2 separate regions of the Homo sapiens genome follow, and region 2 is linked to region 1. A link means that fine-mapping ties the variant in region 1 to the expression of a gene that starts in the linked region. Tissue or cell type: breast. Region 1 holds a variant in brackets; the other region holds the start of a gene. All regions are shown on one strand. Distances are from middle to middle.

What was found. PIP is the estimated chance that this variant, and not a neighbour inherited with it, causes the effect.
Region 2: DAGLA starts here. The variant in region 1 is fine-mapped to the expression of DAGLA in breast (GTEx, PIP above 0.99).

The regions. Positions count from the first base shown.
Region 1 is chr11:61,941,456-61,949,246 of GRCh38, reverse strand. It overlaps a transcript of RAB3IL1 not described here. Among named protein-coding and RNA genes, the nearest start is that of BEST1, 5.0 kb to the left of the region's middle. RefSeq lists a silencer at 3,035-3,198 and enhancers at 5,069-5,570, 6,740-7,394. The variant C/T (reference allele first, on the strand shown) is at 4,520.
Region 2 is chr11:61,677,129-61,683,433 of GRCh38, reverse strand. It overlaps DAGLA (diacylglycerol lipase alpha), which reads right to left and starts at 3,043. Exons shown (of 20, transcript NM_006133.3): 1 at 2,930-3,043. RefSeq lists enhancers at 1-171, 172-846.

The DNA of each region.
Region 1 (7,791 bases):
GAGATGTGTGGTTTTGGGACTAAACTTCCAGAAGCCCTGATTTTATAATATGACCTTGTGTCTTAAACCCACTCTCATCCTCCCTTTCCTGTCACCCTCTCTCTCTGAAATGTACTAAGCGTTAACTATGCTGAGATTGCAGGTGATTTTTCTACACACCACTTTTTTTTTCACTTTAAGTTCTGGGATACGTGTGCAGAATGTACAGGTTTGTTACATAGGTATACATGATGTGCAGGTTTGTTACATAGGTATACGTGTGCCATGGTGGTTTGCTGCACCTGTCAACCCATCATCTAGGTTTTAAGCCTTGCGTGCATTAGGTATTTGTCCTAATGCTCTCCCTCCCCTTGTCCCCCACCCCCACACACCATTTTTGCCTTTATATAATTATCTGCCTAGAAAAAAAAACACTATTTCGCAATGACCTTGAATACTTTTCTAATCATGGCAAACAATAAAGCTGTTGTTATTATAAGACTCTCTTTAGAGGCAGCCTTGTAGGAGTATTTACTGCCTCCCCGCTGCCCCATCGCTGTCCTCAACTGATATGGGGAAAGAAGCAGGTTCACTTCAGCCTCAGTCTCCTCATATGCAAAATGGGACAACGATGCCTACCTTGGCAGCCGAATGAGAATGATGGATGGGACATGTGTCCGTCAACTCTCCAAACCACTGGTGCCTGTGCCTGACCCCTACGAATTCTGATTTGATTGGTCTGGATGGACCCCAGGTGTTGGGATTGTTCAAGTTCTCCAGGTGATTCTGATTTTATGGCCTGTGCTGAGTCATTGCTTAATGGATTATTTCCCTATCCTGTATTCCCTTCCCAACCAACACATCCTGAAACTCAAGAGCTTTCCATTTAGAAGATGATAAATATATATTATATATATTTATATATTAACATATGTAAATATGTATTAATATGTCTATAATATTACAAATATATTTGTATGTACACATATATTTATACATATAAATATATAAGTAAATATATAACTATATTTTTGAGACAAGGTCACCCAGGCTGGAGTGCAATGGGTGTGATTTTGGCTCATTGCAACCTCCACTTCCCAGGCTCAAGCAATCCTCCCATCTCAGCCTCCCAAGTCGCTGGGACTACAGACGCACACCACCACACCCAGCTATTTTTTTTTTTTTTATAGAGATAGGGTCTCACTACATTACCCAGGCTGGTATTGAGCTCTAAGTTCAAGCAGTCCTCCCACCTAGGCCTCCCAAAGTGGTGGGATTACAGGAGTGAGCCGCCACACTCGGCCAATAAGTATGTTTTAACTAAAGTTAACACACATGCCTGGCACCATGCCTGGAACATTGATGCTCATTCTGTACTCTCTGAAGGAATAAATGAAAATCCTGCCTTTGTGGAGACAAGTTCTTGCCTTCCCTGTGGTGGCCACTAGAGAGCGTGCTTGACTAGCTGGCTCTGGCTGGGGAAGCCTGGTTCACTGGTCAGGATCAGTGCAGACCACGGAGCTGGCACTGCTTCATCTCCCTGACCCCGACCAGCAGCCATAGAGCCATGAGAGGGAGTTGGAGACACTAGAGTCCCTCCTCCCTGTTCCCTGAACCGCAGGCTCCTTGGCAATATCCCAGGAGTACCACCAGGACCATAGACAGTGCATGGCCAGTCTCCCTTCCCCTCCCAGAGGCCCCAGCATGTCCCCAGAGACATCCCATGAGCAGCTGCTCCTGGCCCTGCCCCAGAGCTGAGACAGGCACACCCTGGCACAAGTCATGGTCTCTCCTACTGGGTCTCAGCTATGAAAATGTCCCCAGTTAGCCAGGCACGGCTCAGGCACACAGCAAAGTCATGAGTGCTGATTGACCCAAGCCATGCCTGGAACAAGAGTCCCAGGATTGACCCCTGCAGAGATGGCACCCAACCCAGTCAAGGTCGCCCTCTTCTGCTTTCCGTTCCGCAAAGAAAATATTCGCCAAACCATTTCTCCTTCCAGAACTGAGCCTAATCTGATTCCTGCCTGTACGTATTCATAGTCAAAAAATTTGGAAACACTTAAATAACAACTCTAACACAGAATGGCAAGGCCTAAGATCTGTGCCAAGTGCACAGAGGTCAGGGAAATTTTTACAGACAATGGGGCATTTCGGTTGGGTCTTGAAGCATGAGTAGGAGTTCATGGAGCTGAGAAGAATGGAAGAGCATTACACATCAGGGGAACAACCTACGGAAAGTCATAGAGCTATTCCTGAAGGATGATTCAGTATCGCATGTTTATCCACATTTTACAAAGGAGGACACTGAAGCTCAAGGCCTGCCTTGTCCAAGGTCACACAGCTATAAATGGCTTGAGACTAGGATCTAGGTCTTTTGATTTTGGATCCTGAGCCCTTTCCCACTATCAGCTCTACAGTAAAGGTCAGTTTCTGAGAGGTAGAGTCTTACCTGCTAGGGTAGTGGTCTCTCTTGGGGTTGAAGGGAGGTCCAAAGGATGGGGCCTGCATGAAAGATACTTTTTTTTTTTTTTTGAGACGGAGTCTCGCTTTGTTACCCAGGCTGGAGTGCAGTGGCATGATCTTGGCTCACTGCAACATCTGCCTCCTGGGTTCAAGTGATTTCCGGCTAAGTATTGTATTTTTAGTAGAGATGGGGTTTCACCATGTTGGCCAGGTTGGTCTTGAACTCCTGACCTCAAGTAATTCACCCGCCTCGGCCTCCCAAAGTGCTAGGATTGCAGGCATGAGCCACTGTGCCTGGCCGCATGGAAGAAACTTTGACTGCAGCAGATTCCAAGCTCTCGAGCTCCCCAGCAGAGAGCCATCTCTTGGGGCAGCAGGGCAGAGCTGGGGAGATGCGCGGGGGTGCCAGACACAGAATGCTATGGCCTTCTCATCTAGAATTACCATAGCAACAGGAGCATCACAGAGGGCCTGCCTCGGTGCCCTTCTAGGCCCTGCCTCAGCTGGGCAGGAAGAAGGAGACCCAGCTTGGCTGGGGGCAGTAGGCAGGGGGCCCCGGGGTAAGTCAGCCAGGCCTGGATGCTGCCTCCAGGCTTTATGTGGGACACCTGCCAGCCCACACCCCTCTCTTGGGCCAGTCACAGAACAAATAGGGCAGAGGCCAAGAAAGAAAAGGAGGGGGCTTGGCATAGCTGGACAGGGGTGCTGGGGGACACTGCCAGTCCAGGGCCCGGAAGCCAGACAGACAACAGCACCTCCACCCTGAGCTCAGGCAGCCCTGATCCCTGAAGGACGGAGTAAACTCAACATTCAAAGAGATAGAAACATAAGCCCTGGGCACCACAGAAAGACGACAGAAACCAGGAGAGGCTGGGATACACCTAGGTCCAACTTCATCAAACCCAGTCCTGCCCATGACAACGGAATAGCATGGAATAGACCAGAGCTGGACCAACTAGAGACACAAGGCAAGAGGATCCACTGTGCTGCGAGGTCCCCCATGGACTCTGCCAGGCTGCAGTCGGCCAGGTGAGGCACTGACCACTATCCACCTTCCACCCACCCCCACCCCTCCAGCTCAGAACTGGGGCTCGTGGCAGGTGGGTAGCGGAAAGGACATCATGGGTCAGGCTTCTCCTAGACAACTGTGCAGGGCCTGGATGCTGTCAAAGGTTCACACCCAGTGAGTAGCCTCAGTGTCTTCAGCTCAAATGGGCATGTTGAGTTTGACGTGCTGTGAAAGAATGGTAAGTTTCTAGTCCAGCTGCTCATTTTGCAGACAAAGAAACTGAGGCACAGAGAAGGAAAATGACTTGCCTGAAGTCACAGTAGGCCGCCTGTCTAGGTGAGTGCAGCAACTCCCCGCTGCCCCAGGATGCTCCTGCGGTTCGCTTCCACGGCGAGCACTGAATGCCGACCGACCGTGTTTAGCGCTGCGGTGGCCACTGTGAGAGGGAAAGAATAGTAGAAACAATCAGTTCTCCCCATCTTGACCACTTACCAGGTGTCAGGCAGTGCACTAAGCGCTCTTTAGAAATGTCATCTACTCATCAAAACAACCCCTGGGGAAGAGGAAGGGTCATCCATCTGTCAGGTGGATGGATGTTGGAGAGGACGGCACAAGGGTAGGCTAGATGAGGAGTAAGCCACATTGGCCCCTATCTGTCAGGTCAATGGGCTGACGGCAGGCTGCCTTAGCTGCCTTTCCCTGCCTCAGATGCAGACTGGCTGGGCTTCCACAGCTACAGCCTTCTCCACCCATGCTAGGGCTACCAGACTTAGCCAATAAAACTACAGGCCAGGCCAGGTGTGGTGGCTCCTACCTGTAATCCCAGCACTTTGGGAGGCTGAGGCGGGTGAATCACGGGAGGTCAGGAATTCAAGACCAGCCTGGCCAACATGGCAAAATCCCGTCTCTACTAAAAATACAAAGATAAGTAGCCAGGCATGGTGGCGCATGCCTGTAATCCCAGCTACTCGGGGAGGCTGAGGCAGGAGAATCACTTGAACCCGGGAGACAGAGGTTGCAGTGAGCCAAGATTGCACCATTGTACTCCAGCCTGGTTGACAAGAG[C/T]GAAACTCCGTGTCCAAAACAAAAACAAACATTAGATGACATCCTGGCAAAACAACTACAGGACAGTCAGGCAAATAAGAACTTCAGATAGAAAAGTGAATAATTTTTAGTGTAAATATGTCCCGGGGGAGGGGCCCGGGAGCATCGTCCTTTTTTCTGTGGTCCCTCTGCTTTGCTGATTTGCTTAATTGGTCCATTCCTTCCTGCTGCTGACTTCTAGAACCTGGCTTCTCAAACTGAGGTCTGGGGCCCAGTTACATCATTTGGAAGCTTGTTACCAATGCAGAATCTGCCCTGGTGCAGTGGCTCACACATACAATCCCTACATTTTGGGAGGCTGAGGTCGGATGATTGCTTGAGCCCAGGAGTTTGAGGCTGCAGTGAGCTATGATCACACCAGCTCAGAACTGCAGTCCAGACTAGGTGACAGAGCAAGACCCTGTCTCAACAAAGGAGGGAAGGAAGGAAGGAAGGAAGGAAGGAAGGAAGGAAGGAAGGAAGGAAGGAGGGAAGGAAGGGAAGGAAAGGAAGGAAGGGAAGGAAGGGAAGGAGGTAGGGAGGACTCCATTCTGTAGGTCGTCTTTTTTACTTTGTTGAGGAGGTTCCTTGATGCACAAAAGTTTTTAATTTATTTTGAAGGAGGGAGGAAGGGAGGGGAGGGGAGGAAGATTCATGTATGCCTGCTTTATACAACTATAAGAGAGATTTAAGACTATTGCTTACAATTCAAAAGGACTAAATGCTTGTTATAAACAATTAGGAAACTACAGAGCAGTTTAAAACAAAACAAAACAAACTCCCAAACAAGGTTATCATTTTGATGTATTTCCTTCCAGTCTTTTTTTTATAATTTTAATATTGAGGGGCAATCCGTGTCCTGTAAAATTCACCTTTTCCACTTATGTATGTAGTGTTTACATATTTACTGATGCTAAAGCCATCCTAGTAGGTGTGCAGTAGTATCTCATTGTGGTTTTGATTCTCATTTCCCAGATGGCAAACGATGTTAAGTATCTTCTCATGTGCTTATTGGCTGTTTGTTTATCCTCATTGGAGAAATGTCTATCCAAGTCTTTTGCCCATTTTTTCAGTTGGATTGTTTGCCTTCTTGTTGTTGTTAGAATTATTTATATATTCTGGATACTAGACCATTATCAAGCACGTGATTTACAAATATTTTCTCCCATTCTGTAGATCATCTTTTTTACTTTCTTGAGGAGGTTCCTTGATGCATGAAAGTTTTTAATTCATTTTGAATTTTAAACATTAAAATTTTAATTTAGATAAATTTTGACACTGTCAAATCCAAGGTCATGAAGATTTACCCGTACGTTTTCTTCTAAAACTTCTATCGCTTTAGTTCTTACATTTAGGAATTTGACCTATTTTGAGTTAATTTTTATGTATCATTTGAGGTAAAGGTCCAACTTTCTTCTTTTGCATGTAGCTATCCAGGTGTCCATGTATATTTGTTGAAAAGCATATTCTTTCCTATTGACTTGTCTTGGCATACATGTTGAAAATCAATTGATAATACATATATGGGTTTATTTCTGGACTATCAATTCTATTGAGCTATATGTCACTTCAATATTTCATTGTTTTAATTATGTAGCTACGTAGAAATTTCGAAACCAGGAGTGTAAGTTCTCCAACTTTGTTCTTTTTCAAGATGGTTTTAGCTATTTGGGGTCCATTGCAATTCCATGTGAATTTTAGGATCGCCTTGCCCATTTCTGCAAAAAACGCAGTTGGAATTTTGATGGGGATTACACTGAGTCTGTAGATCACTTAGTCATCTTTACAACATCAAGTCTTCCAATCCATGAACATAGGATGTCTTTTCATTTATTTAGGTATTCTTTAGTTTCATTCACCACTGTCGTAGGGTTTTCAGTGTACAAGTCTTGCATCTTCTTGGTTAAAAATATTCCGAAGTCTCTTATTCTTTTTAATAAGAATAAAGTTCCATTTTGTAAATGGCATTATTTTCTTAATTTTATTTTCAGATTGTTTATTGCTAATGTATGGAAATACAGCTGATTTTTGTATATTAATCTTGTATCCTGTAACTTTGCTGAATTTATTTACTAGCTGTAATAGTTTTTGTGTGGATTCTTTAGGGTTTACTACATATAAGATCATGTCATAATTTGCCAGGTGCAGTGGTTCATGCATGTCATCCCAGCATTTGGGGAGACCAAGGAGGGAGAATTGTTTGAGCTCAGGTGTTTTTTGTTTGTTTGTTTGTTTGTTTTTTAATTTATTTTTTTATTGATAATTCTTGGGTGTTTCTCACAGAGGGGGATTTGGCAGGGTCATGGGACAATAGTGGAGGGAAGGTCAGCAGATAAACAAGTGAACAAAGGTCTCTGGTTTTCCTAGGCAGAGGACCCTGCGGCCTTCCACAGTGTTTGTGTCCCTGATTACTTGAGATTAGGGAGTGGTGATGACTCTTAACGATCATGCTGCCTTCAAGCATCTGTTTAACAAAGCACATCTTGTTTGTTTGTTTTGAGACGGAGTTTTGCTCTTGTTGCCTAGGCTGGAGTGCAGTGGTGCGATCATGGCTCACTGCAACCTCCATCTTCTGGTTTCAAGCGATTCTCCTGCCTCAGCCTCCCAAGTAGTTGGGATTACAGGAGCACGCCACCATGTCTGGCTAATTTTTGTATTTTTAGTAGAGGTGGGGTTTCACCATGCTGGCCAGGCTGGTCTCAAATTTCTGACCTCAAGTGATCTGCCCGCCTAGGCCTCACAACGTGCTAAGATTATAGGCATGAGCCACCATGCCTGGCCTTTACACTGATTTTCATATGTTCAACTACCTTGCTTGCATTCCCATGATAAATCCCACATGGACACGATGTATAATCTTTTTAACATGTTGCTGGATTGGATTTGCTAGTATTTGGTTGAGGATATTTGCATCTATATTCATAAGGGATATTGGTCCGTATATTCCTTCTTTTTTTTGAGACAGAGTCTTGCTCTGCTGCCCAGGCTGGAGTGCAGTGGTGCGATCTGGGCTCACTGCAAGCTCCGCCTCCTGGGTTCACGCCATTCTCCTGCCTCAGCTTCCCGAGTAGCTGGGACTACAGGTGCCTGCCACCACACCTGGCTAATTTTTTGTATTTTTAGTAGAGATGGGGTTTCACCACATTAGCCAGGATGGTCTCGATCTCCTGACCTCGTGATACACCTGCCTCAGCCTCCCAAATTGCTGGGATTACAGGCGTGAGCCACCACGCCCAGCCTGGTCTTTATATTTC
Region 2 (6,305 bases), 270 kb after region 1:
TCCTCGGGGGAGGTATGAAGCACTGCAGGGAGCGGGTGAGACAGGCCATGGATACCCCTCAGACCAACATGGGAATGACCAGGGAAGCACCTGCAATGCTGGACAGTGTCTGCGTGGCAGCTACGGGGACAGGGCGAGTCCATAGCATGGAAAAGTCAGCTCACAACCCTGGGTCTGGGAGGGCCGTGTCCTCCTTCCACCCACATGGCTTGACACTGCAGCCTGGGCACAGGGCAAAAACTTTCCTCGGGGAGCAAGGATGTGAAACAGGTTGCTGGCTAAGGCAGACACCCGCATGGAATGCTGAAGAAACGGCCTGGGTGAGAGAAAAACAGGACTTCCAGCGCCATGGGGCAGGGTCTGCAACTCAGGCTCTGCAGCTTGTTGTCGGGAATTAGGCTCCTGGTGGCAGAGAGCAAAGCACTGTGCAGCCACCCTCATCCTCCCCACCTGGGAAGGCACTTCAGCCAGAAGTGGGGCCACATTGGGAGAGGTGCCACACCTGTCTGCCCTCAGAGGTGCCTGTAGCCCCCTTTCCTTTCCCCTATGTGTCTGAGGGCATCCTCCACACCTCCCCCCCCCGTCCCCCTGCCATCCAGCCTCAACCTCCCGCAGAACCATCCAGACCTGAGCCACATCGATCTGTGGATGCTCTGACCCACTTCATTTCCTTCAGGCCACAGCCCAAAAGACGCTGATGTGACTGCTCCCCACCCCCGTTCTCAGAACCCAGAGCCAAAGGAAATTCTCCAGAGAAAACACACACACTTCCCAAGTCTTCCTCCCACACAGGTACCCTAGATCTGTCAGCCACAGACACCTCCCAGACCTACCCTGGCAATGAGGCACGTCTGCTGCCCAAGCAAAGTGCTTCCTCCTGCTTGGGCCACTCCTGCAGGACTTCACAGCTGCCGGGGCCATGCTCAGGACTGTCCTCTGGAGACCGGGGGCCTGGTTCCAGCTCAGCAGCTGACTCACAGTGTCAACAGATCCCACTTGCCCCCACCGGGAGCATGTGCGCTCAGGGCCTCTAATTCCCTATGACAGGCCCTCAACCTTCCGGCTCCCTTCCTCCCAATCACATCCCGTGCCACCATTTCCTATGGCTCCTGCCTCCAGCCCTGGTCTCTTTACTTGATGAGACTCTCTGACCTTTGTACAGTCTTTCGCTGTTTGCAAAGTGTTTCCACGTGCACCATTTCCTTTCATTCTTTACTACCAGACCACCATGTGACATGCCTTGATTGGTGAAGTCACCTGCTGAAGGTCACACAGCCAACACTGGAATTAAAGTGATATGGCTCCAAAGGCATCGGACAGTGCTCCGGTTATAGGGAACTCATCAGCATCTCCAAGCACCCACCTTGGCAATTTGGCGACCACCTGCCACCCTACCCTCAACATCATCTTTTTGGACTCATAAGTGCCTTCCCCAGCACAAGCTCAACCCTGTGATTCTTCTACCACTGATCCCACTCCCCCAAGAGATCCACAAAGAACTGAAGATTTCCCCTACACTGTAAGACTTCTCTAGGAGGAGCTGCAAATTGCTTCTCTGTAAAGTAAGGCACTAGGTGATGCTGAGTGAGACCTTCACCCAAAGCTTCCCAAAGGACTGGTGAGAGCAAACACAATCTCAGCGCAGATGGAGGGGTTTTAACATAGGAGCTAAGCAGAGAGGACAGACAGAGCCCTTGGAAAGGAATTTAAGCCTGGGGGTGGGAGTCCCGGTGGCCCCAGCAGATTCCCAGTGGCTGCAGAATCATCTTTCAAGCATACCCCAATCGATCCAATCCTCTGGACCCAAAGGCTCCCCAGCATCAAAGAAGAGAGGCAACTCCCAGATACCCTGGAGTGAACCCATCAACCCAGGGAGAAGGCAGGACCCCGTGACTACAGATAGATGGTGCGCCATACCACTCCCTCACTCGCTGACCCGGGTTACCTCTTGGTCCTGCTTGCTTCTCAGGACATATTCTGGGACACCGATCACCACTGAAAATCATCCACCCCTCCCTTCATTCCCAAAGCTAGATGAAAAGCTAGATGAATGGTTCTCTCTACCTTAGCCCAGGACAACGGTAGTGCCTGGAAGGTCTCTATCTGGGTTACCATCAGGGCCCTTGTGGTAGAAGCTTCTCCTGGCATCTCTTGTTTATGCCCATTATAAAGGACACCAACCTTCTCCCAGCCTTCTGCCCTCCTCAGTCCAGTGTACCCAACAGGCATTAAAACTGGACCCCCATGACAGAGGCAGTGTCCCCTTCATCGCCCGTGAGGAAGGATGGGCATTTACCCTTCCCATTCATCAGGATGGGAGGGCCACGGACTCCCCCCGCGGCAGTGCCGGGTAGCCCCCCGCACCACACCGTGCCAAGGCCCTTTCTCACAGTCATGCCAGGAACTCTAGCCATGCTGAGAACACCAATTCTTCAAGCCCCCAGTGCTATCACCCCAGATCATGTCAAGCCCAAGGCCAGAACCATCCCAACACCCAAGCAATGGCAGCACTTCCTCACACCCATGCTAGCGGCACCACCATGCCGGCACGAGCTGGCCACCTATCCCATAACCAGTCCGAAGGCCGTGCCCATCACCTACCTGTGCAGACAGCTGCACCACCTCACACCTGCGTGGCCACCACCGCACCAAGGTGGAGGCGAGTCTTCTGAGACCCGTTCCAGGAAAACCACGCCGCCTGTGCCGGACCCACGTTGCCCACGCCCGTGCCACGCGTGTCACCATCCCCACGCTGGTGCCAGGGGCTCCACAGACCTCACACCTGCCACGGGCGCGCGTGGCAGCTGCAACTCCGCCCGCCGACCCGTCGGGCCGGCCACCGCGCGCCCTGGACACTGCCCAGCCCGCCGCGCCGCTCGCACCGCGCCCGCGCCCAGGACCGGCCCGCCGCGCCGGAGGCCCCCCTTACCTCCCGCCCGCCGCAGGGCTCGGCCCGCCGCCGCGACCGCCACCTCCATCCTGGGCTCCCCAAGGCCCCGATTCACTAACGCCGCTTCCGCAGGGCGCCGGCGCCGGCGCGAAGGCCGCCTCCGCCCCCCGGGGGACGCTGCGTCCTTTACGTAAACCCCTCTCCGCCGCCAGCGGTGACCATGGCGACGGTCGTGGGGAGGCAGCGCCCCCTGGCGCCAGGGAGGGGAGCGGCGTCGAGGCCAGGGAGAGCCGAGTCTTCCGCGGGCGCCGGCCCTGCGCGTGGGGGCGGTGGGCGCCTGGCTCAGGCTCGGCTGGGGTCCCGTGGGCGGCCGGGAGGGGCTGGACTGGCCGCGATGCGTGCGGGGAAGGGAGCCGCCTGGGTGCCTGCCCCTCCTTTAGGTCCCTCGTGACCAGTTTTAGCGTGGGAGAGGGAAAAAAGGAAGTAGGATCACTGGAGAACTGGTTCATTTGTGGGGAGGAGAGAGACGGGTCCCACCTCCTCGGGGTGACTGAACTCTGCTTGAGAAGTCAGAGCATGGCTAGAGTTCCTGGCGTGACTGTGAGAAAGGGCCTTGGCACGGTGTGGTGCAGGGGTCTACCCGGCACTGCCGTGGGGGGAGTCCGTGGCCCTCCCATCCTGATGAATGGGAAGGGTAAATGCCCATCCTTCCCCACGGGCGACAGAGCCCGTGGGTACCCTGGGTACCCCCTCCTCCCTACCACCCCCCCACCCCCCACCCCTACCCCCGTTCCCAGTGCCCAGCATCGTGCCTGGTCTCCAAAGGGGTTTACTTGGTCAATTTTGAATTTCTGGTAAATGAAGAAAACCGCCCCTCCTGTTCCCCTTCACGCCCTTTCATTCACCGTAAGTCGCTTACACCTCCCTGGGAGCACTGTGCTGAACTGGGGGAGTGGAGCACAGAGAGGAGCAGAAGGCGGGCCCTGACTTCAAGGAGCTCATTCTGCTGGGGAGGAGACGCAGATGGAGGGGGTTTTAACACAGAAGCTAAGCCGAGAGGACAGACAGAGCCCTTGGAAAGGAATTTAAGCCTGGGGATGGGAGTCCAGTCTGCAGGTCGGGATGACTCAGCTGGGTCCCAAAGATCCAGTAAAGATTCATCAGAGACAAAAAGGGGAAGAACGTTTTCTTTCAGGCAAGAGAAGTGCCTCTAAAATGTTTCCTAGGCCCTGTTGCCACCCCCAAAATCACAGTGATCGCGCAGTTCAGTAGAAGTGGGAGCCATAGGTGAACAAGGAGGTGTGGGTAGTGGGGTGCCCGGCTTGAGCAGAAGCCTCGGTCTGAAAATTACGTGGACATTTGGGTTGGAAATGAGACTGTGAGGCCAGGACTGCCTTTTATTGAAGCAGATGGAGCCACTTCTGGAAGGAGTTCTGTGTTACCTGTGATTATTTAGAAAGCAAACTCACGTAGGTAACAAGGAAAATGAGGAGTGGGCGCATATACCCAGTGGGGCACCTCAGGGGATTCAAGGAGGAGTTGAATTCCTCAAGGCTCAGGAAGGGCAGAGATCAGGGGAGGCTTTAAGGGACAACTGTAGCAGTATCAGTTTAGGGATCTTCTTTCTAGATCATTGCCATTAATCAGAATCAAAACTGCCAGATTGGATGTCTCTTGGTTCAAAGTTCCCGATTCCCAGAAAAAAAGAATCTTATTAGTCCAGATCAGGCCACGGTCAATCAGCTATGGCCAGGGCAGAAAGTGCTTTGTGATACAAACATGTCAGTCCACTTTTCCCCGTTGAGAGACACTCCCAGAGGAGGAGAATCATGACCTGAACAGCCAGTCCAAAGACTGTCGGCCAGGGGCGGTGGCTCATGCCTGTAATCCCAGCACTTTGGGAGGCAGAGGCAGGTGGATCACCTGAGGTCAGGAGTTCGAGACCAGTCTGGCCAACATGGTGAAACCCTATCTCTACCAAAGTACAAAAATTAGCCTGGCATGATGGCAGGTGCCTGTAATCCCAGCTACTCGGGAGGCTGAGGCGGAAGAATCACTTGAACGTGGGAGGCAGAGGTTGCAGTGAGCCGAGATCGTGCCATTGCACTCTAGCCTGGGCAAGAGAGCCAGACTCCATCTCAAAAAAAAAAAAAAAAAAAGGCTGTCTACTACGGATCCATCCCTTAGCTGTCCCATGTACACAAACTCACATGTGTCCATGTGCACACATGTGTCCCGACACACGCCAGTCCTTCTTCCCATTCCTCCAAAGTTGTCTTCACCAGACAAGTACCAACAGTCACCTTCACACTTGATGTCATGAGGCTACTATTATTTCAAGATCTTCAAGGTGATTGATCCCATCTGGTCATTTAACTGAATTAAAGGGTTACTTTTACCATCACCAAATCCTTTGAACTCTTGCTACTCAGAGTGAGACATTGGCACCACCCAGAAGCTTAACGGGAATGCATAATCTCAGGCCCAAGAATCTCAGGTTGGCAACAAGATTCCCAGGTGATTTGAATGCACATGAAAGGCTGAGAAACACCACTATTATAAATGTTAGGTGACCGGGTGCGGTGGCTCACACCTGTAATCCCAGCACTTTGGGAGGCTGAGGCGGGTGGATCACCTGAGGTCAGGAGTTCAAGACCAGCCTGACCAACATGGTGAAACCCCATCTCTACTAAAAATACAAAAATCAGCTGGGCATGGTGATGGGCACCTGTAATCCCAGCTATTCGGGAGGCTGAGGCAGGAGAGTTGCTTGAACCCGGGAGGTGGAGGTTGCAGTGAGCCGAGATCCCGCTACTGCACTCCAGCCTGGGCAACAGAGTGAGACTCCGTCTCAAAAAAAAAAAAAAAAAAATAGGCCCAGCGTGGTGGCTCACGCCTGTAATCCCAGCACTTTGGGAGGCCGAGGCAAGCAGATCACAAGGTCAGGAGTTCAAGGCCAGCCTGACCAACATGGTGAAACCCCGTCTCTACTAAAAATATAAAAATTAGCTGGGTATGGTGGCGCGCGCCTATAATCCAAGCTACTCAGGAGGCTGAGGCAGGAGAAGCGCTTGAACCTGGAATGCGGAGGTTGCAGTGAGCCGAGATCACGCCACTACACTCCAGCGACAGAGCAAGACTCCCTCTCAAAAAAATACATACACACATAAATGTTAGGTGAAAGGAAAAGGAAAGATAACAAAAACATTTTCAAATTGTGATTCATATTTTCTTAAAGGGGGAAATGGTCAACTATTTAATCTTCAACAACTCTAGTAACAAGCAAGGAAAGACAGGGAGGGACTGCAGTCTTTATTTTTGCAATTGGTCACAAACTCCTAGAAGGTACTAGCGAATTCCATCCTCTAACGCCTTATTTCTGTGTTCTGCAGGTCTCCTGCCCGATTCTTATTCA